5 separate regions of the Homo sapiens genome follow, and regions 1, 3, 4 and 5 are each reported to be linked to region 2. The links are microRNA targets in miRTarBase. Many come from high-throughput screens and were not tested one by one. Region 2 holds a microRNA gene; each other region holds the end of a gene's coding sequence.
Evidence for each region. The annotated mature microRNA hsa-miR-5087 reads GGGUUUGUAGCUUUGCUGGCAUG and lies in region 2 at 1,877-1,899, shown strand. An mRNA with a match to its seed (bases 2 to 7 or 8) in the 3' UTR can be bound and repressed. Matches are read on the target gene's strand: a 7mer-m8 pairs with bases 2 to 8, a 7mer-A1 pairs with bases 2 to 7 and ends in A, and an 8mer does both.

Region 1: miRTarBase lists ELF4 as a target of hsa-miR-5087. Seed matches in the 3' UTR shown: 7mer-A1 at 2,931-2,937 and 7mer-m8 at 2,962-2,968.
Region 3: miRTarBase lists ALDH1L2 as a target of hsa-miR-5087. Seed matches in the 3' UTR shown: 8mer at 3,471-3,478.
Region 4: the mRNA of SEPTIN6 is a reported target of hsa-miR-5087. The part of its 3' UTR that is shown has no 7-base or 8-base seed match.
Region 5: the mRNA of HNRNPA3 is a reported target of hsa-miR-5087. Seed matches in the 3' UTR shown: 7mer-A1 at 1,919-1,925 and 8mer at 766-773.

Annotation. Positions count from the first base shown.
Region 1 is chrX:130,062,622-130,067,015 of GRCh38, reverse strand. It overlaps ELF4 (E74 like ETS transcription factor 4), which reads left to right. Exons shown (of 9, transcript NM_001421.4): 9 at 1-3,061. The coding sequence ends at 295. Among named protein-coding and RNA genes, the nearest start is that of ELF4, 46 kb to the left of the region's middle.
Region 2 is chr1:148,331,834-148,336,420 of GRCh38, reverse strand. MIR5087 (microRNA 5087) reads left to right here and starts at 1,867; the gene lies at 1,867-1,942. LOC124904404 (a long non-coding RNA gene) reads right to left here and starts at 2,556. Exons shown (of 3, transcript XR_007066576.1): 1 at 2,470-2,556; 2 at 1,662-1,767. LOC124904402 (a long non-coding RNA gene) reads left to right here. Exons shown (of 3, transcript XR_007066574.1): 3 at 502-1,007. It also overlaps the pseudogene RNVU1-21. RefSeq lists enhancers at 1,010-1,119, 667-1,174, 1,175-1,684, 1,400-1,699, 2,050-2,129.
Region 3 is chr12:105,020,850-105,025,436 of GRCh38, forward strand. It overlaps ALDH1L2 (aldehyde dehydrogenase 1 family member L2), which reads right to left. Exons shown (of 23, transcript NM_001034173.4): 23 at 1-3,630. The coding sequence ends at 3,575. Among named protein-coding and RNA genes, the nearest start is that of NOPCHAP1, 37 kb to the left of the region's middle.
Region 4 is chrX:119,622,152-119,626,738 of GRCh38, forward strand. SEPTIN6 (septin 6) reads right to left here. Exons shown (of 11, transcript NM_145799.4): 10 at 3,184-3,228. The coding sequence ends at 3,225. Among named protein-coding and RNA genes, the nearest start is that of NKRF, 18 kb to the left of the region's middle.
Region 5 is chr2:177,218,898-177,221,897 of GRCh38, reverse strand. It overlaps HNRNPA3 (heterogeneous nuclear ribonucleoprotein A3), which reads right to left. Exons shown (of 11, transcript NM_194247.4): 9 at 2,739-2,861; 10 at 2,584-2,651; 11 at 1-2,490. The coding sequence ends at 2,599. Among named protein-coding and RNA genes, the nearest start is that of HNRNPA3, 7.6 kb to the right of the region's middle.

The DNA of each region.
Region 1 (4,394 bases), not on the chromosome of region 2:
GAGGGAGCTCCTGAGAGATCAGGCTCATCTTCAGCCACTTCCAACCCAGGTGGTTTCCAGGGGTTCCCACAATCCGAGCCTTCTGGGCAACCAGACTTTGTCTCCTCCCAGCCGCCCCACTGTTGGGCTGACCCCAGTGGCTGAACTTGAGCTCTCCTCAGGCTCAGGGTCCCTGCTGATGGCTGAGCCTAGTGTGACCACATCTGGGAGCCTTCTGACAAGATCCCCCACCCCAGCCCCTTTCTCCCCATTCAACCCTACTTCCCTCATTAAGATGGAGCCCCATGACATATAAGCAAAGGGGTCAGGGCAAGTGTGACCCACCAGGCAAAATTGAGCAGCATTTTCATAGGGACCGACTTCAGTAGCACACCTGCCCCTGCATTTCAGTGGGATGTCAATACACTTGACCCCAAGTCCCCCGGCCCTGCCTGGTGTCACTGTGGCCAAACAGTGCCCAGCTTAAGCATCCCTGGCATCAGACTATGGCCTTCAAGAGCACTAGGGCATATGCTTTTGGCAGCATAACGGGCTGACTTGGTGATGGAGGGAAAAAGCCTTGAGCCAGGCAGAAGTTTGTGGCCAGGGTTTGTGCAGCAGCTTTGTGAGAAGAGCCCTTCTACCTGGCTCTATCTCACTGGCTGCATTCCCTACACAGGGAATTTACTACCCTATATGTGAATATCCCTGTATGTACTTGTGTGTACTTGTTGGTCTGTATCTTAGTTTCTTTGGGGAGGACAGGGCTGTAGCTGTGAGGTCTTGTCTCCAAGGGTGTGTGTATGTCTCCGTGGATCAGCCACAGGGATAGGGATTTTGTTTTTAAGGGAAAGCATTCTCTAATTCCCTTTGTTCATGCCGAGATTCAGTTGCTCTGAGACTATGGGGTACAAGTTTGATCCTCCGAATCTGGAGATGTTGTAGAGCTGGAACGAGTGCAGAGTAGGAACGCTTTGATGCGCATGCACATTGGGGAAGATGCGCTCCTCAGGGACACAAAGGCCGAGTGGGGTAAAACCACGAAGGGAGGGAAGGGAAGTCAGCTCTGGGAGCAGCCCTCACTGGCTGGACCAAGGTACTCTTCCTGGAGTTTGCCGTGTTAGCAACCACAGTCACCTTGCAGTCAGGCTGGAATCTTGGGCCACCCCAAAGTGCTTTGCTGAAGGATTTAGACGGGGATGAAGTGCCCTCCAGCCTCAGAGCTAGCCACAAAGCCCCCAGAGCTGAATTCATTGAGTATTTGTGCCTAGGGCTTGGGCTGTTTGTGTGATACCGGCCCCCCGCCAGACAATAGCCTTTGCTGACACCCCAGCCTACTTCCCCGATCCTGGGCTCCCTCTTGATTACTTTTTGACATTTTCCAGCTGTCAGGCATCACTGCGGCTAGTCCGGCAGCGACCTAGATGGGGTCCACCCCCATTCCTGCTCAAGCATGGGCACCTACCACATGGTTTCTGCTGCTCAGCCTGCCTGCAACTCACCTCGAAGGCGGACCAGCCTGCCTCTGTGATGACTGCAGCAGACCTCCTTGGGTGTACCAATGCCCCTCATCTCCCACTTTCACACCTAACCCTGACTCCTTCACCAAGAAGACGGGAGTCGGCAGCCAGGAGTTCCCGTGGCACCTCTCTCTCTTCGTGGCTCCCTGCTTCCCCCTTCCCTCTTTCCGAGGAAGGGTCAACCTATTCTCTCTCAAAGCCAACCCCTAGGCCAATTGCCTGGATCTCCTCCCCTCTCCCTTCTTTAAACGAGCTTGCCTCCCTCCTGCCAAGTTTGAGGGCAAGGCTAAGAAATGTCAGCCACGGAAACAACTCTATTATCTGGTGACTTTGGGTAATGTGAATCAGTGCCTGAGGACCTTTGCTGTGTCCTTGGTACAGAACCATCCACTTGACCTAACTACCTCCCCTGGCCGCGCTCTCGCTCTTCTCTTCTTTGTTAAGCCAACAACTATCACCCTCTCCTACTCTTCTTCTCCCTGCCCCCTGGAGGGCACTGTGTTTGGTTGTGCAAATGTATTTACTATGCGTGTTTCCAGCAGTTGGCATTAAAGTGCCTTTTTCTAATAAAATCAGTTTATTATGACAGTTTCCTGATGGTTGAAAGTAAGCATCTTGATAAAGGGTCACCATTAAAAAAAAATTTTGCATAAAGGTGCTGCATGGGTTGGGGTAGCCCCGCCCCCACCTGAAAACTGGTTTCTGCCACCCCTACTCCAACTCCATGGAAACTCATTGCTGGAAGGTCATCAATGACCTCATGGTGAAATCAAATGTCTTCTTCACAGTTCTCGGGCCCCCGTGAGCCCACACTAGCTGGGCTCTCCTGCATCCCCCATCACCCTTTCCGGGGCTGGTTCTTCACCTACCACTTCCAACGTGGCTGTTCAAGAATCTCATCCATTTTGGGCTCATTTTGGCTCCTCGGAGATGGGTCCTAAATCTAGAGCTCCAGTCCCAACCTTTCTCTTAAGCTCCTGGCTCACATTTCCAGCAATCTGCTGAACATTTCCATGTGGGTGCTTGTCAGCTCCTTAAAGATAGCCCCTCTATCAACAATGTTTTTGTTTGTTCGTTTGTTTTTGAGTCAGAGTCTTGCTCTGTCGGCTGGAGTGCAGTGGTGCAATCTCGGTTCACTGCAACCTCTGCCTCCCAGGCTCAAGTGATTCTCCTGCCTCAGCCTCCTGAGTAGCTGGGAGTACAGGCACATGCCACCATGCCCAGCTAATTTTTGTATTTTCAGTAGAGCCAGGGTTTCACCATTTCGGCCAGGCTGGTCTCGAACTCCTGGCCTCAGGTGATCCACCCACCTTGGCCTCCCAAAGTGCTGGGATTACAGGCGTGAGCAACCACGGCTGGCCAACAATGGATTTTTAAATTATTTCCACGCTCACAAAAAACCTTTCCAAGATGACGGGTTGATGGGTGCAGCAAACCACCATGGCACATGTATACCTATGTAACAAACCTGCACGTTCTGCACATGTATCCCAGAACTTAAAGTATAATAATAATAATAATAATAATAATAATAATAATAATAAAAATCAAGCAAACAAAAAGGCCGTCACGACTTGCCTATTTCTGTTAATGGTGCCACTGTTTTCCTGACCTCTTAAATTTGAAATTTCAGAGCTGTCTGATCGTTGCCTTCACTTCACCCCCATCCCCCTCTCCCGTCTCCCGAAGTCCAGCTTGTGGTTTGCAATGTCCGTAAAACCTCGCCTTTCTTCCACATTCCCAGAAGCCTCCACCCTAGTTCAAACTACCCAAGACACACAGGGGCTCCCAGCGTGATCTGTCTCAACCCCTCCCATTTGCCCTTTGATAAAAAGCCCTCACTGACTCCTCCTGGCCTACAGGTAGGGGTGATACTCAAAATACTTAATCTCTAATCCTTTCTAAACTTAGCCCTTTCGTTGCTGAAGCCAGTCCAGGGGTCCTGGAATAGGGATGGGGGAGCACTTGGGCTCAGGGCAGTAGCTCCGGAAGTATTTTAAGCTTAGCATCAGCCCTGTCTTCAGGACAAAGCCCCAAGTCCTTGGCCTGCCATCAAGACCCTTCACCTTTGGGTCTTAACTGACTTCCCCAGTCAACTCACCCTGCTCCTTCTGCCACCACTCATACCCCAAGGCACTGCTCCAGTCAAACTGATGGATTTGCTGGCCTGTGAACATGCCTCTGTTTACAATTTCCAAACTCTGTGCTTTTGCTCTTATTATCTACTACATATATTCTAAGCATTTTAAACCTGGAAACCAAGATCCTCCATTTATCTTTTACCTGCTCTAGGCAATACAGACAAACTCAACATTATTTACACACTCCTGTGTTTTCTTAATGAATATTCTTCCCTTCTATGTATCTTTTCCTTTAGAAATACAATCCATTGGCCATGCGCGGTGGCTCATGCCTGTAATCCGAGCACTTTGTGAGGCCGAGGCAGGCAGATCACGAGGTCAAGAGATCGAGATCATCCTGGCCAACATGGTGAAACCCCGTCTCCACTAAAAATACAAAAATTAGCTGGGCATGGTGGTGTGTGCCTGTAGTCCCAGCTACTCGGGAGGCTGAGGCAGGAGAAACACTTCAACCCGGGAGGCAGAGGTTGCAATGAGCCGAGATCGCGCCACTGCACTCCAGCCTGGCGACAGAGTGAGACTCCATCTTGAAAAAAAAAAAAAAAAAAAAAAGAAACGAAAAGGAAAGAAAGAAAATCCATCCACAGCCAGGCACAGTGGCTCACGCCTGTGATCCCAGCACTTTGGGAAGCTGAGGTGGGCGGATCACCTGAGGTCAGGAGTTGGAGACCAACATGGCCAATATGGCGAAACCCCATCTCTACTAAAAATACAAAAATTAACCGGGCTTGGTGGCACGCACCTATAATCCCAG
Region 2 (4,587 bases):
CTGTGGCCCCCACCCAGGAACTGACCCAGCTCAAGAGCATGCTTTAGCTCCCTGTGAGTTCATCTCTGACCTGTCCAATCAGAACTCCCAACTCACTGTCCCCCACCCACCAAATTATCCCTAAAAACTCTGGTCCTAGAATGCTCAGGAAGACTGATTTGAGTAATAATAAAACTCTGGTCTCCCACACAGCCAGCTCTGGGTAAACAACTTTCTTTATTGCAATTCCCCTGTCTTGATAAATTGGTTCTGTCTAGGCAGCAGGCAACAGGAACCCACTGCGCAGTTATACTCCCCCAAAACCCACTACACACTTTATGATTTGATTTATATGAAAGCAAAGGACAGGAAAAACTTGCCTGATAGATTTGGAGTCTGTGGAGTATTGTCAGAGTTTGGGATTGTATTCTACAAATTAAAAGTAATCAGTTAAGCACCTCAAATAAAATTTCCCCCAATTTTTTTTCTCCAAATTTGGACCACTTGTTTCTCTCTTTGCAGAATATAAAGTGCTAACATGAGGTAAGTGCTACGGTCTACAGAAGGCCATGGAAGAGATGACAAACTCCAGCACCATGCCTGAGTGTCCAGTGTGCTCTGCTGGGGCAGCATATTTGTACATTGCTGTATTTGAAAAAATCCTACAAGATTCATGAAATTGGACCACCGTCTTTATAGCACTACTAATGGTAAAACAAGTAAGGATGGCTGGTTTGCAGTCATCTGAGCAGCATCTCTAGTTTCATAGATATGGTTTCTCTCTGATACTGAACGGCTTCCAATTTCAAGTAGAATGCTACATCAGAAGAATAACGATGGGAAGAGAACTAGTTTCTTGTGTAATCCTACATGTTTTAGTCTGCGCATTACAAACCATTATTTGAAGAAGGGTGGACAGCCTCCAGCTGTCTGCCAAAGAGGTCATCGGCAACACAGGCTAAGAACCGGCTTCTGGGCGGGCATGATGGCTCAGCCTGTAATCCCAGCACTTTGGGAGGCCGAGGCGGGCGGATCACCTGAGGTCAGGAGTTCGAGATCAGCCTGGCCAACATGGTGAAACCCCGTCTCTACTAAAAATACAAAAATTAGCAGGGCTTGGTGGTGTGCTCCTGTAATCCCAGCTACGCAGAAGCCTGAGGCAGGAGAATCGCTTCAACCCTGGAGGCGGAGGTTGCAGGAAGCAGAGATGATGCGACTGCACTCCAGCCTGGGCGACAGAGCGAGACTGCGGCTCAAAACAAAAAACTACAACAGAAACACCTGCTTCCTTGGAAAGATTGGGGCGGGGAAGGGAGGGAAAGGAAGGAAAGGCAGACGTCACTGTCCCCGCAGTCTCTGGCAGCATGTTGGTCGGCTGAGTGGCAGAAGGTGGGGCGGAAAAGCAGAGCCGGACGGGAAAGGCGCTGTCAGTGACATCACGGATAGGGCGACTTCTATGTAGATGAGGCAGCACAGGGGCTGCTGCTTCGCCACCGGCTGCTTCGCTACGAAGGAGTTCCCGTGCTGTGGGAGCAAGTCCAGGACCGCTGTTCAGACCTGAAAGTCCCAGCTGTGTGTCAAGGCTGGAAGGGCTCCGGGGTGCGCGGGGCAAGTGACCGTGTGTAAAAAGGGTGAGGCGTGTGGAGCAGTAGCAAGACGGAAACGTGTGAACTCCTAATTACCTGGCATCGGAGAGGACGTTATGAAGGTTGTTTTCCCAGGGCGTTGCTTTTCCATTGCACTGTGGACGTGCTGATCCTGCGATTAACCCAAATGGGAGAAATTTGGCTGCACAATAACAGTGGAGAACTGCGTTAGTGCTTTCCGCTGAAATCTTGCAGTGCAAAAAGTGAATTCTGCAGGAAGGGCTACTCTTAGTTTCTACTTAGCTTTCTACGGGTTTGTAGCTTTGCTGGCATGTTAAGTGTTGTCCTACAGTCGCAAGCATAAGAAAGAGAAAGTATTGTGTTACTGTCCTCTCCGCCCCTATCATGAGCTTGCTTAACACAAGCTAAGTGGCCCCAGTGCTCTTCTCTTCCCTTTCCACGTGGGGCTGCTTTTTCAAGATTGCTTCATGGTCTCCAGTGTCTTGGGTTCTCACCCTATGTGAAAACCTTCGTGTTTTTTCGTAGCCCCCGGAGTCACCTTTCACACAGCCTGTGCTTCTAACCGCAGCCCCCACAGAAGTTTGTAGGATTTCTGTGCTAGCGGGGAATGTGTTCTCACCTCCTAGAGCCAGGTAGAAATTCTAGGCAGACGGGTGCTGTTCTTTGGGATGAAAGCAGTGTCCCTGTTCGGTTGTAGACACAACACGCTTGCTTTCTGTAGGGGAACGGCTCTCCCCGCGCCCAGGTGCCCTTGCTTATGTTCACCGAGGCCTTCAGGTCAGAACCGCAGTCTGACTTGTCGGCAGAATGTGTCGGCGATCTACCCCAACTACCCAGCAATAAAATGGGACACATTACAGAAACATGAGATAGCATGGATTACCTCAAAAACATCATGCCGAGTGATGAAAAGAGGGCATCCTGTGTGGCGCCATCAAGGTGAATTTCTAGAACAGGTAAAACTAACCTGTATAGTGACAGAAAATACATCATTAATTGCTGGGGCCAGGGGGAGGGCGGGACTGACTGCAAAGGGCACAAGAGGACCTTTTAGAGTAATAGTCATCAAACTTGAAATGGATGCATTGTACCATAGGCAACTCACACCTTAACTTGGTTGTAAAAAGGAATAAGAAAACCACTCCAAATCTTAATGTCTTCTCCTTAATTTAATGTATGTTTGCCCTTAGAGGAGTCGTTTAGACAAATGTCTTTCTAACTGTGCTAGGGAGTTCAGGAATTCCTTCATTTCTGTTTCTGTCTCTTTGTCTGCAGTTAAGTTCATGCACTATTAAGTGGAATATTTGTAAAATAAAAATAGAGTCTAAGCTCAATTTTATAAAAGCATACATATATGTTTTTATATATTTTTATATTTTTAAATATAGAATTATATATACTATATAATTTTATATATTAAATATATATTTTATATATTTTTATAATTTTATAATTTTTTCAGGCATATATATCCTTCTTTATTTTTTTTCTTCTTTTTTCTTTTGTGGGGCCTGGGGGGAACAGTCTAGCTAAAATATACTTTCTTCTCTCTGTAGATATAACACAATACCATGACTCCAGTGTTGCCCGAATGTTATGAGAAGTTATTTTTGAACTTAAGGTGATCAAAAATTTTACATATGTTTACATTTTCTCTACTGTTAGTACGGTCTATGCTTAGCATGTATAAATTTTTTTTAAAAAAGACAATAGCTTAAAAATGATTCGGAAGAAAAATATGTAGATATGTTAACAGTAGTTAATTCCAGGAGGTGTGAATATGGATGACCAGTTATCTTCCTCTTTATGAATTTTTTATATTTTTAAATGGAAAATCCTCAATGACCTGGAAGTGAATGAACAGATTAGATTTGGAAGGGGTGTAGGGCAGGTGAGAGGAAAATGTTAAGGGAAGGACAAACCCAGTTCTGGCAGGACCATGTTTAAGTTGAAGGTTTCTGGGGAGAAGTTGTTGGGATAAGAAGGATATGAAGGAGGCAGGAGAATCATGAAAATATTTAGGACAGTGTATTGCCTGTCTTATCATTCCTCCTCCTTTTGTGTTTCTTCAAAAGAAATACAAAGACTTAACATTTCTTTTGAAGCATGCTTACAATTTGTGTTTCTCTTTTATTAGTGTAACTGCCTGGTAAGTTTATTCTGCCCATTGCCCAGATAAGCCAATGGAGCTGAGAACAGCAGGCTTTCCACAATAGAGAAAGAATTTAACAAATGCAGATGCAGCTGAGGGACCAGGACAGGGGTTTATTATTACTCAAATCTGCCTCCCCCAAAATTCAGAGACTAGGGTTTTTGTTTTGTTTTGGTTTTGGTTTTTGGTTTTTGGTTTTTTGTTTTTTAAGGATAGTTTGGCAGGCAGGGGGCTAGGGAATGTGCAAAGCTGATTGGTTGGAAATCACAGGGTGTAAGAGCTTGTTTACTTGCACTGAGTCAGTCCCTGGATGGGGCCACAGGACCAGATGAGCCAGTTTACCAGTCTGAGTGGTACCAGCTAGTCCATCACAAGGCAGGGTCTGAAAAATATCTTAAACACCAATATTAGGTTTGACACTAATAATACTATATATAGGCACAATTGGGGAGCTTAGGAATCATGTGACTTCTGGCTGCACGGCTCCTGAGCCATAAATTCCAATCTCGTGCCTAATTTGTTAGCTTTGCTAAGGAGGTCTGATCCCCAAGAAAGGAAGGGGTTTGTCTCAGGAGCGACAATCATCTTTGTTTCAGAGTTAGACTAAACTAAACTCCTCTCATAGTTAGCCTGGCCTATTCCCAGGAATGGACAAGGGCAGCTCAGAGATTAGAAGCAAGATGCAGTCAGTTAGGTCAGATTTCTTTCACAGTCATAGTTTTCCTATGTCAGGTTTTTCTCACTGTCATAATTTTTGCAAGGGTGATTTTGTTAGGAGCAGTATAAACACAGTGGTTCTGAGAATGTCTTCTGGAGCCAGGCTGCCTTCACTTCAAATTCCTGCTTTCA
Region 3 (4,587 bases), not on the chromosome of region 2:
CAAACTCTGTATTCAGTGAAGGCAAATTAGTGGCTCAAAAATAGCCTTGATGAGAGTATTTACACATAGATACCTGCAAATGCTACAAATGAGGGTTTTCTCCCCCGTCCCGGAGAACTATTTGTTAAATATTTTACCAGCACACCCCTGGGAAGAGGAAGAATAAGGACAGAGGCCCTGAGGCAGGAGCAGGCTTGTTCTGTTGAGGAAGTCAAGGCAGTCAGGATGGTGGAACAGAATGAGAGGGAAATTGACAGGAGATGAGGTCAGAGGTAGCTAGGAGCAAGATCAGTAGGCCAGGTAAATACGTTGGACTTTGGTCTACGTGAAATGGGGGCCATTGAAAGGTTTTAAACAGACGAGTGAAGTGACACTGTCTGACTTAAGCTTTGAACAGGACCGCAGAAGAGAGGAATCCAGAAGACCAGTTGGGAGACTTGAGCAAAATTGTAGGAAAGAGGTAACAGGCCAGGTGCAGTGGTTCATGCCTGTAATCCCAGCACTTTGGGAGGCGGAGGCAGGTGGATCACTTGAGGTCAGGAGTTCAAGACCAGCCTGGCCAACATGGCGAAACCCCATCTCTACTTAGCCAGGTGTAGTGGCACACACCTGTAATCCCAGCTACTTGGAAGGCTAAGGCATGACAATCGCTTGAACCCAAGAGGCAGAGGTTGCAGTGAGCCAAGATTGCACCACTGCACTGCAGCCTGGGCAACAAGAGCAAAACTCTGTCTCAAAAAAAAAAAAAAGTAATAATGGCTTAGGGGTAGAGGTAGTAAGAAAAGCACGTTGATTTCTTCATTTTTTTCAGAGATTGTGAAGATTAAATAACATTTAAAACATGCTTAGCCTAAGGTCTTTCATACAGGAGGCCCTTAATAAATGGTAGCTGTCATATCGTATTATTATTGACAGAAGGCCCATACTGGAGTTGGGGAGGGTTGTTCATATCTAATTAAGAAGGCAAGTAATTTTAGTACAAGTGGTAAGTGCTATGTTTGAAACAAGTGGGAACGCTGAGGAGAAACACTTAGCCCAGCTAGGGTAGGAAGGTCCAGGAAGGGTGTTAGAGCAAAAGGGACAGCTTTAGCAAAGGCATGGGGATGGGGAATTAGAAGGAAAGTGGAACTGCTTAAAGTGTCCACACCTCCCGATTCAGGTGATAATAAGATCACAGCTTCATCCTTAGCATTATTAGCAAAATAATCCGTGATCTAAAGCAACAGCGATGATTTTATTACTCTATGTGTTAAGTAAATCACCTAGCAGGCTGGGGAGGGTGATGTTCCAATTCCAGTTCACTTGGTAACTTTATGTATTACACAGAGCCTTTGATTCTGATCAGCCAGATCTAAAAATGTAAGCTGGTAAGAAATGTTTAAAACTTGCTATGGAGAAAGGAGTTCTTAATCTGGGGCCCAAGCATGGCCTTTGGGAGGTCTGTGAACCCTTTGAAGATACTTGCAGAATTGTGTGTGTGCACATGAATTTTGGGGGTAGAAGCGGGACACAGGGAGTGTTCATAGCTTTTATCAGATTCCCAAAGAGTTTTGCAGCCCAGAGAATATTTAAAACACTGCTACTGAGATGAATATTAGAGGGTAAAGTAAAATCAGTCTAGAAGGACAGGCATGTTTTTGTCTGCCATTCCATCTATCATTAAAATAATTTGATTAAATCATATTCTAAATCACATGAAATCAGTTAAAACATTTCACTTAAAAGTGATTACTTATAAAAAGGCTTTTGTCACTTTTATTCAAATATGAACTGTCATTTTGGGCCCAGTGAATATTCATTCCAACTTAAAATTTCAGCTGTGCCAAACTCTGGGATGGTAAATGAGCTATAGTATAATCAAAAGTGCTTCCAGGCCAAATTCGCTCTGTTTATCATGCTGGGATCAAACCTCCTATTCTTCCTTTTGAAAATGTTCTCTGACTCTGATTTTGTTGTTTAGTTTTTATTGATTCCCTACAATCCCCTCATGTTATTCTGCCAAGTCTCCAAAATGACAAATATTCCCTAAGGCTTCTTCAAAGCCAAAGAAAAAGGAATGTTTACTGAAATTTTATTTTTAAAGGAGGATTAATAGAATTTAACTTTCTGGCTATCTTTTGGAGACTCATGTGATTCAGAAATTTGCCGCCTTCTAGTCACACATAGATGGTGAAAATTTACTCACCTGACTACTTCTGTCTGCCAATGGGAAATGGGCTGTTAATAGTTTCCATTTCTTCAATGCTATGGTCCAAACGCCTTGTTAAGTGCATTATGTATATTATCTCACTGAATCCTTGCAACACCTACTGAGATAGAGATTTGATTTTCATTTTATAGATACTCAACCTAGGCTCTGAGATATTAGATTACTATCTTGCCCAAGATCACACAGCCAGTGAACAGCAGAACCAATAGGTAGAAAAATGGAAAGTAAGATGTCCCATGAAGGACGAGCGAGCTGCCCAAAGAAAAGCACCCCTTTTCCTTGTACTATTGCCATTTTTCATTGTGTGGCATTTTTCAGTGCTGCTGTATCAGGCATTGTGTCAGAACAATGGATGAGAAAAATATCTAGGAATTGATGATTGAAAAGGGTTGTGGGAAATGAATTCATCTAGTTAATTAAACTATCTCAATATCTTTTAAGAATGGTGACGGAGGAAATCAGAGTTAAATTTGAGTACTTACCATGAGCAAAGCATTAATGTGAGGTGCTTTACTTACATTACTGCAATGAATTCTCCTATTAAGGGTCCTGAGGAAGGCATTTACTATCCCTGTTTTACACATAGGGAAGCAGAGGCTCAGAGGAGTTGCGAGAGTTTCCCAAAGTTACATAGATAGGAAGATGGTATGATACGACCAGGATCAGCCTTCTACTATATCATATGTAAAATTTGCTTCAAAAGCTATTTACTAAAATTTAAACTATGTGGGGGCCAGCCATCATATCATTAAATTCTCTATACTCCTCAGAACATAATATAGTACCTGGTACCTAGTAGGTACTCAAGATAATGTTTCTAGGTTGATCACCCATCACAGTGGGTTAAAAAATGGAATATCAAAGGCACAAAGATGTATCTTATTTCCAAATACTAAAAAAGAACTACCTTCACATTCCTTACAGGTTATACTGTTCCTTAGAAGACTTATAGAAAATCTTTTTAATAACCCCCTATGTATAGTTCAGAGGTTAAAAACCTGTACATATTATACAAAGTTTCCAATAAATGCACCTTGTGTATTATAACTGCATGGTACTGACATCTTCAAGATGGGAACCATGAATAGATTTGTCTAGGTAGGGGAGAAACAGCTTGGTATTTTAGAAATACGTATGATATACAACATAGTCAAAATGCAACAACTCCAAATCACTGGAAGGTGTATTAGAAAATACTCAGGCACATGTGTAAATGCTTTAACATGGCCTGGCCCTCTTCATGGTCCATCTGTGTATTTTTTGGTTTGTGGCTGACACCTCCTGCCTCAACACACCCAATCTTCTTAAGTGTGTCCAGAGTTGTAAAGGGCTGTCTGTCAAGGCTTTCCTGATGATGGTGTTGCTCTAATATTCCAGTGTCACCGTCTTGGTTTTGAGATATTCATTTAGAGCTTCCTCACCTAGGGAAGAGAAAAGCAGTTGACAGACCACATTCAGAGGCAGACATGTGATGTCTTCAGACCTTCAGACATAGGTATACGTAGGTGTCCAGGTCACTAAGTAAATAGAATGTGGCCTAAGCCAGTGCTTCTCACACTTTGAAGTTCATACTAACCATCTGAAGACTCTGTTAAGTTGCAGATCCTGATCTGATTAAGTCTGGTGTGGGCCCAGAGGTTTTGTGTTGCTAACCATTCCCTGATGATGCTGATGCTAGTGGTCCATGGACCACACTTTGAATAGTAACAGCCCAGACCAGCTACCAGGCCTTCTAAGGAGCAGAGAGTGTTGCCTGGTCAGCTTCAAACCAAAACCCTTCTCTTTTATTTCCCTACTTGATGACAGACTCTGCCTTTTTGTCCATTTAAACTAAACAGAAGTAACCAGGATACTGTCCTCTGGATTATATTAATTAAAGCAGAACTGAGCACAGGAAAGTTTGAAATCATTTGGTTTAACCTTATTTTAAAGATAAGGAAAATTCAGTTTATATTGTTTGTTAGAAACACAGGGAAACCTGTCTAGGCAAAAATAAATAGGTCTGCCTTTCTTTGACTGTTTCTATTTTGAGCCAGTACTGTCATCAATCTCTACAGAGGTTAAAGGGCACTGAATACCATGGGAAAACTAATGAGTGCGTGATTCTGGAAGCTGAGCTAAAACAAGGGCTGTCAACTTTGTCCGCATGTTAGAATCACTCAGGGAGCTTTTAAGACTCCTGACCCCACATCACACCCCAGATCAATTAGATCAGTATCTGTATTTTTTGAAGCTCCCAGGTGATTTGAATCCACTGTGCAGCTAAGGTTGACAACCACTGGGCTAAGGGGTTTTAAAATTGGGGGAGGAAGAAACTATTAGAAAAACTGTAGTATTTTATAGTAAAACAGACCTGGAGCTGGTCAAATACACTCTCT
Region 4 (4,587 bases), not on the chromosome of region 2:
ACTGCAATGGCCTATGTTCTAGGTTTCATGGGAAGGCTGACGTATTTTGATGTGTGTATACTATCCATATACTGTGCACTCCTAAGGACCAATAATGATTGAGGTAGAGTATCTGCAACGATGTAGGGGGTCACAAAGGAATCGCTTTTACAAATGCAGAGAGCTATAAGTAGTGCCTCAAGCAATTTCAAAATGTGGAGGCACAGTAAGCCTCACTCTGCCTGCATTCTAGGTGGCCTTCGTGATCCACCCCTTGAATGAGGGCTTTGAGGAGGGGGCGGGTTGCCTTTGCTGCTTTCAGATCCTGGGGAGCCAAAGCCTCCCCTGACTCGTTGGTCTGAAATTGCTTTCGTGGTCTGCCAGGGAGAATCCTGCCAGGAAGAGCCAACCTACTTGGGGTTGGGGTTGGCTGTTCCAGCTGTTTACCAATTGCCTCTCACTTGTAAAGTGTAGCTTTAATTATAGTTTTGCCAGAATTCATTTTAGGAATGGCCACTAACAATGATTTACTTGGGGAAACCTGTAAGCAACTGTGTCAAGCCACGTGCAGTGAAACCTGAATTAACTGAAATCTCATTAACTAGAATACATATTTCCTGCTCACCTCATTAAAAATGGGAGAACAAAGAACATAACACATGAACTGAGTTCCTATTACATGTCAGACACTTCACTACGCACTGGAACTACATACAGTGCAAAGAATGGACAGGCATTCTAGGAACTGACTGTCTTCCTAAATGGAAATCTGCTGTTTAATTCCAGTCAACTAGCAGGGGCTCCAAGACTTGCTGTTAAGCCAGACAGTAAATCAAGTCACTGTTCTTTTAAGATTGTTTCCTTTGGCCCGGTTTCATGGGCCTTATGTTGCAGAAACCTCTATGGACTTCCTCTTCAGGATTTGCTTCCAAGCAGGATGTTTTGCCAGCTGCCCCGAGTCCCCAGTGCAATAGCTGCGGCAATCAGTTTGGTGACTAACAGCAGGCTCTCCATTTAAATCATAAACTACATGGGTGAGTGGGGAAAAGTCTTCTCTATATTTTATATTCCCTGATCCAAACAAACCAAATGTAAAAGGGCATTTATGAGACAACCGGGATGTTTCAAACACTGACTAGACATTTCATGTTAATGAATTATTGTTCATTTTGTAGGTGTGATAATGGTGGGGTTGTGGTTATGTTTTTTTAAAGAATCATTATCTCTTGGAAATATATACTAAAGTATTTACAGATAAAATGATATAGTTTTGCTTTATAATAATTCAGCAGGTCTGTAGTAATTGATGAAACAAGATTAGGCATATGTTTATGGTTGCCTGGGGGCTGAACTGTATTATCCTCTTATTTTGCTCATGTTTGAAAGTTTCCACGGTAAAGTTTAAAAAAAATAATAATAACCCTTCATCGGGCGCGGTGGCTCACGCCTGTAATCTCAGCACTTTGGGAGGCCAAGGTAGGCAGATCACCTGAGGTCAGGAGTTTGAGACCAGCCTGGGCCAACGTGGTGAAACCCGGTCTCTGCTAAAAATACAAAAATTAGCCAGGAATGGTGGCACATGCCTATAATCCCAGCTACTTGGGAGGCTGAGGCATGAGAATTGCTTGAACCCAGGAGGCGGAGGTTGCAGGGAGCTGAGGTTGTGCCACTGCACTCCAGCCTCGGTGACAGAGTGAGACTCCGTCTCAAAAAAAGAAACAAACAAACAAAAAAAACCCTAATTATGTTAAATTAAAAATGTTTGTATTTCCTTTCCATCCACTACCTGAGTCTAGTAGAGGAGATAGAAGGTCCTTAATCCCTGCTTTCAGTCTCCCTATAAACTATGTGAAACTTTATAAACTTCTATTAACACAACATCTAGCACTCAGGAATCCTTACCTGCTGATCTCCTTATAAGAGGTTTTCATGAAGCCAGTACTTGTAGGATTAAATGTAAGGAATTCTCTATAATTTCTAAGATCTCTTCATTTTCCTCCGCTTTTATTATGGGTTTTTTTTTTTTGTTTTTTTTTTTGTTTGTTTGTTTGTTTGTTTTTTTGAGACGGAGTTTCGCTCTTATTGCCCAGGCTGGAGTGCAAAGGTGCGATCTCGGCTCACTGCAACCTCCGCCTCCCAGGTTCAAGCAATTCTCCTGCCTCAGCCTCCCGAGTAGCTGGGATTACAGGCATGCACCACCACGCCCGGCTAATTTTGTATTTTTAGTAGAGACAGGATTTCTCCATGTTGGTCAGGCTGGTCTCGAACTCCCGACCTCAGGTGATCCGCCCGCCTCGGCCTCCCAAAGTGCTAAGATTACAGGCGTGAGCCACTGCTCTCAGCCTTATTATGGTTTTGAGGGGTACAGTCAAAGGAAATTTGAGGACTTGAACCCCTCAGATATGAAACTGCCACCAGCGGGAAACAGAGAAGTGAGTTTCCATTGACTCTGGACATTCTCAAACCTGATGCAGGGGGATGGGAGAGGGTTGATGCTGACTGTGACATTGCAGGACGGAGCTTGTGAAACCCAGTTTCTCTCATCACCACGGTTTCATTAATTTTGAAAATAATGGTTATAGCTCCTTTTGTTTTTGAGATGGAGTTTCGCTCTTGTTGCCCAGGCTAGAGTACAATGGTGCAATCTCGGCTCACTGCAACCTCCGCCTCCCAGGTTCAAGCGATTCTCCTGTGTCAGCCTCCAGAGTAGCTGGGATTACAGGCCTGTGCCACCATGTCCGGCTAATTTTTTGTATTTTTAGTAGAGATGGAGCTTCACCGTGTTAGCCAGGATGGTCTCAATCTTCTGACCTCAGGTGATCTGCCCTCCTCGGCCTACCAAAGTGCTGGGATTACAGGTCTGTGAGCCACTGCGTCCGGCCCGATTATGGCTCTTTAAGAAAAAAACTTCCCACACTGAAACCTCAAATACTGATCACAGGATCCACCTGTGTTACCCAGCTGTTCTAGCAGCAAAAGTCTGAAAACGACCCCTCACTTTAATCAGGCAGGCAGGCAGGCATTCCACATGTACACCTGAAACCACACCAGACTATTTCTGCATATTATAAGTCACGAGAGAAAACCAGCTAGACCAATGAAGCAGCTTCTTCTACGATTAGATGCTTGTGTTGGGGGTGCGGGATTGGGGGAGATATGTTCTAGAAGCCACTGCCAGTTCTATTTAGAGTTAATCAAGCTTACCAGGACCCTGGGTCTCATGCAGCATGCAGCAAACAGCAGAGTTAACTGTAAAACAGTAAGAGCTGATGAAGATGGAGTGAGCATGAGGGGAAATCAAATATTATGACTTGACACAAACAATGAAGGGTTAGAGGTCAAAGGTGATTAGGAGTAGCAGGAAGGGGAAGTGGGAAGGGTGGACTGGTAGGAACCCCTGAAACACTGATACTCTTTTTTTTTTTTTTTTGAGTCAGGGTCTCTCTCTGTTGCCCAGACTGGAGTGCAGTGGCGCAATCATGGCTCACTGCAGCCTCAACCTCCCGGGTTCAAGCAGTTCTCCCACCTCAGTCTCCTGAGTAGCTGGGATTATAGGCAAGTGCCACCAGGCCCAGCTAATGTTTATTTATTTATTTTTTTTGTAGAGACAAAGGTCTCACTATGTTGCCCAGGCTGATCTCAAACTCCTGGACTCAAGCAATCCTTCGCCTTGGCCTCCCAAAGTATTGGGATTACAAGCATGAGCCACCACGGCTGGCCAGTACTTTCTTAATCTCTTTAGGGGCAGCTAAAGGAAATTCTGAATATGTGACTCTTAGATCCAACCACCATCTCTCAAGAAGAAATACTACTACCACCATTTCTGCCCTCAAAACTCACTACCGTGACTATGGGAGGAGGGTAGCACAGGTCTAACGGTGGCTCTTCCAGAAGTTAACAAATTGCTCATGAAATTACATAAGAAGCCAAGATTCAGGGCCACTTCTGCATCTGGAAGTACAGAAGAAGACAGGTCATTCTGTTAGGCCCTTATTGCTAATATAAGGTGCCACATGCCAGCAGGGTTTTCACCCATTTCAGAATTGGAAAGGGGCACTGTCACCAACCCCAAATATTCCTGAAGAGTAGAGAGGGGTATCTCCCTGTTGGGGTCTCCTGCCTGGGGTGGGAGAAGTCAGTCAGTATGAGGCAACAAGGGGAAAGCTTGATGTAAGAAGAACTTTTACTGAACATCTGAATAGGGAATATTTATAGTTTCATTGTAGCCTGAACAAACCAATTCCTAACTCCCACAAGCAGGCTATGAAACTGCCCCAGGTACTGAGTTAACAAATACCACAGGACTATGAAGGCAGCAGGTTACAGCTGGATGACAAATTTAGATTTTTCTGATCTTAAAAATAGGAATTCATTCCTGCTGGTGCAACTAATACACCATGACAGATAAGTTAATACAGTACAGGGTGTGTCCAAAGAGACTTTTTTCTGGCTAGTTGAACTTTATCCATCAGGTAATACCAAAAAATTTCATTCATCAGTGAATTTGACATATAGTATTAAGATTCAGTAAGAAAAATTTCTGGACTAATTGGTGAAGATGTTCTTTTTTTTTTTTTAGACAAAGTCTCACTCTGTCACCCAGGCTGA
Region 5 (3,000 bases), not on the chromosome of region 2:
AAGGCGAAGAGCTCCTTCCTGCTAGACTTTCTTCGATATTTCAGTTGTAATAAGCAGATTTAACTAGCTTTTGGAAAGTTGCTCACTATCATCATAGTATCTTATGCCTTCACTTCTCTGTAGTTGAAGCTCTTGCTGCTGCCTTGTCATTCTTTATTTATGCTGACTTGTCCAAACACAAAAGGCTGCTGAAGTCCTGTCTTAGTGAGTTTCTGTGATCCACACTGTGCTTAAAAAGCACATCTTAGGTCCTTTAAAGGTGGTTAAATCGCTCTCCTCATGGCTTACTTTTCCACACTGTTCACAAGAGCTAAGCTAATACAACTTATAAACAGGTCACATACACAGATTTCACCTGCTTATAGGTTGTAAACATCAACTTACTGTAAATGTTTTCACTATAATACTAGTTCCAGAACATAGAAAGTTGGTTAACAGTACAATTAACCTCATGCCATTAAAGGATACTGTCAAGGTTGTGTCAAACAATTTCACAAACATAAAACAGGAAATGTTAATCTCCCCCATTCCTTTAAACTTTATTTATATGAATAAAAGAACTTGAGACAATTTAGCTCAATTTTAATGTTTCCCAAGCATTATTTTGACCAGGTACCCAGGTTTAAGTTATGAACATTGACAGTGTCCATTATATAACCACACTTGAAGTTATTTAGGACTTAACCATTTTCTAATATTAGCCTATTTTCTACACTGCTTTTCACATATATGCCCATTAACAAATGGAATGTCTGTTACATTTATTGGTTTGTGAATGTTTCTGGAAAACTGCAGTATGTGTGAAGACCAATTTCCATGCTGGCATTGCATGCATCCAAATATTAATGCACAGAGGCACAGAATTAGAGCAACAAGAGAGCATATTCAAACACTAGCACACCCCATTCCCCTTTTTATTGCTTGTTTGCTTAGTACTTCTTAAAACAAAAGACTTGAATTCAACGTTCAACTACCAAAGAGAGTAACAGCAGGGCACATACTCAGGGCTCGAATGAAACTGTAAGCACTAGCTGGAGCAAAACAGTAGACATTGGTTTATATTAATATATGTATATATGACCTTATTAACTAAAACTCTTCTCAACCAGGGCCTTCCAAACAAATTGGTAACAACATGATTTATGTTGAAATATACACAAGAAATAACAGTGTGTTCTTTGGGAATTTAAGAACTCAGACTATCCAAATTTGAATTCAGGTCTGTAGGAAGTGAGAAGCCTGTACTAAGCAACTGTGCTACATTTCTGCTGCAGTTAGGTTATTTTGGACAATTATACCTGAACTATCCTTGGTTTCATCCAGCAAAATGTATAGAATACAAACAGGAAAGCATGCCAGCCAGTTAGGGGTTTAATAACACATGATTTTTATTCTCTTGCTCTGAAAACTTGTATCAAAAAAAAGAATTTAAAGTAACTCAAGATTTATGGGCCTCTTGTGCTTTAAATAAGAAAAAAAAGGTACCCACTAATTTGCTCAGATATAGCAGGCTTAATGGTTCTATATTTTCAAAAGTTTTTAAGAATGGTTTCTAACGTAGGAGAGGGAAAACATCCACCATCCCTTTTCAGAATTTAAATGGAGGGCAGTAAACATTCTTTACACCCAAAACCTATGGCAGCAGTTCAAATTTGACCAAGGTAAATGTAGAATAGAGATGTTCTAAACACAGCTAGGACTCAGCAAGTCTAACACACTAAAATCATATGATTACATTTTAAAAGAAAATGCACAAAAACCAAATAGAAATTTTGAGATTTTTTTTCATTTGAAGGTAATCTTAATGCTATTAAATTCACAAATGCTAATTTAAATACCCAATCCTATTTATCTAAAACACACATTGCAAACACACAAATTATCTATTCTCTCCACATGTCAGCGCCCATTCATATCATGGTTTGGAAATGGGGAGAATAGATTCCCCTTAAACTGCAAGTCAGCAGGTGTTTCTTTACAGTTAACTTTAGCAAAATTCATACAAAATAGTAATTAACAATGATCTTCTTTACTTGTTAACTCACAAGGAAACACCTTCGAAACTGCATTTTGTTAAAGTTTCTGTACTAAAATGTAGAAAAACTGAACTACACAAATATTGAAAAGTTAAAAATTCCTTAATTTTTTATTCCTGGTACCACTACCACAATTTACAGGGCAATATACCTGATGTAATGAAAAGAAAAAGAAAAAGACAAAGCTACAACAGATAAAAGACCTCAGGAATGTACATCTAATTGACACTACATTGCATTAATCAATAGCTGCACTTTTTGCAAACTGTGGCTATGACAGTCCTGAACAAGAAGGGTTTCCTGTTTAAGCTGCAGTAACTTTTCTGACTATGGATCATCGTTCCTTCTGTGGCAGATTTTTACAGTTCCTCTAATGCATTTGGGACGACTGTCTCAAAGTAACCTGCAGCTTTCCTGACAACTCCTCGCTCTCTCTCCTGCTAAGAACTGTAGCCTGTTGAATAATACAGGATAAAAAAATTATTACACTCAGTGAACAGTTCCACATATTCTTTTATCATCATAATAAAAATTTAAAGATACCTACCCTTTTCTGCTGTTTTTAGAACCTTCTGCTACCATATCCACCACTTCCACCACCAGATCCATAACCACCTGAAAATATACATAGTATTTTAAAAGAAGTATGCACATTTTTTAAATTAAAAAGGCTCTAAAGAATTGATTTAAGAAAGTACTTACCACCATAGGGACTGCCCGAGCTTCTTCCACCAAAACTGCCCCCTTTCATGGGTCCATAATTTGATTGCTGTTGTCCACTATAATTTCCAAAATCATTATAGTTCCCACCACCACCATAGTTACCTGAAATCAGAAAGGTTTTATGTGTGGTTTACCTACACAATCATCATTTTCCCCTTTTAACGTATGTAACTATTATCTTTTGAGAATTATGGTAGCATGCTTATACACATCACTGTGGTAGCACCACTTGGGGTAACTG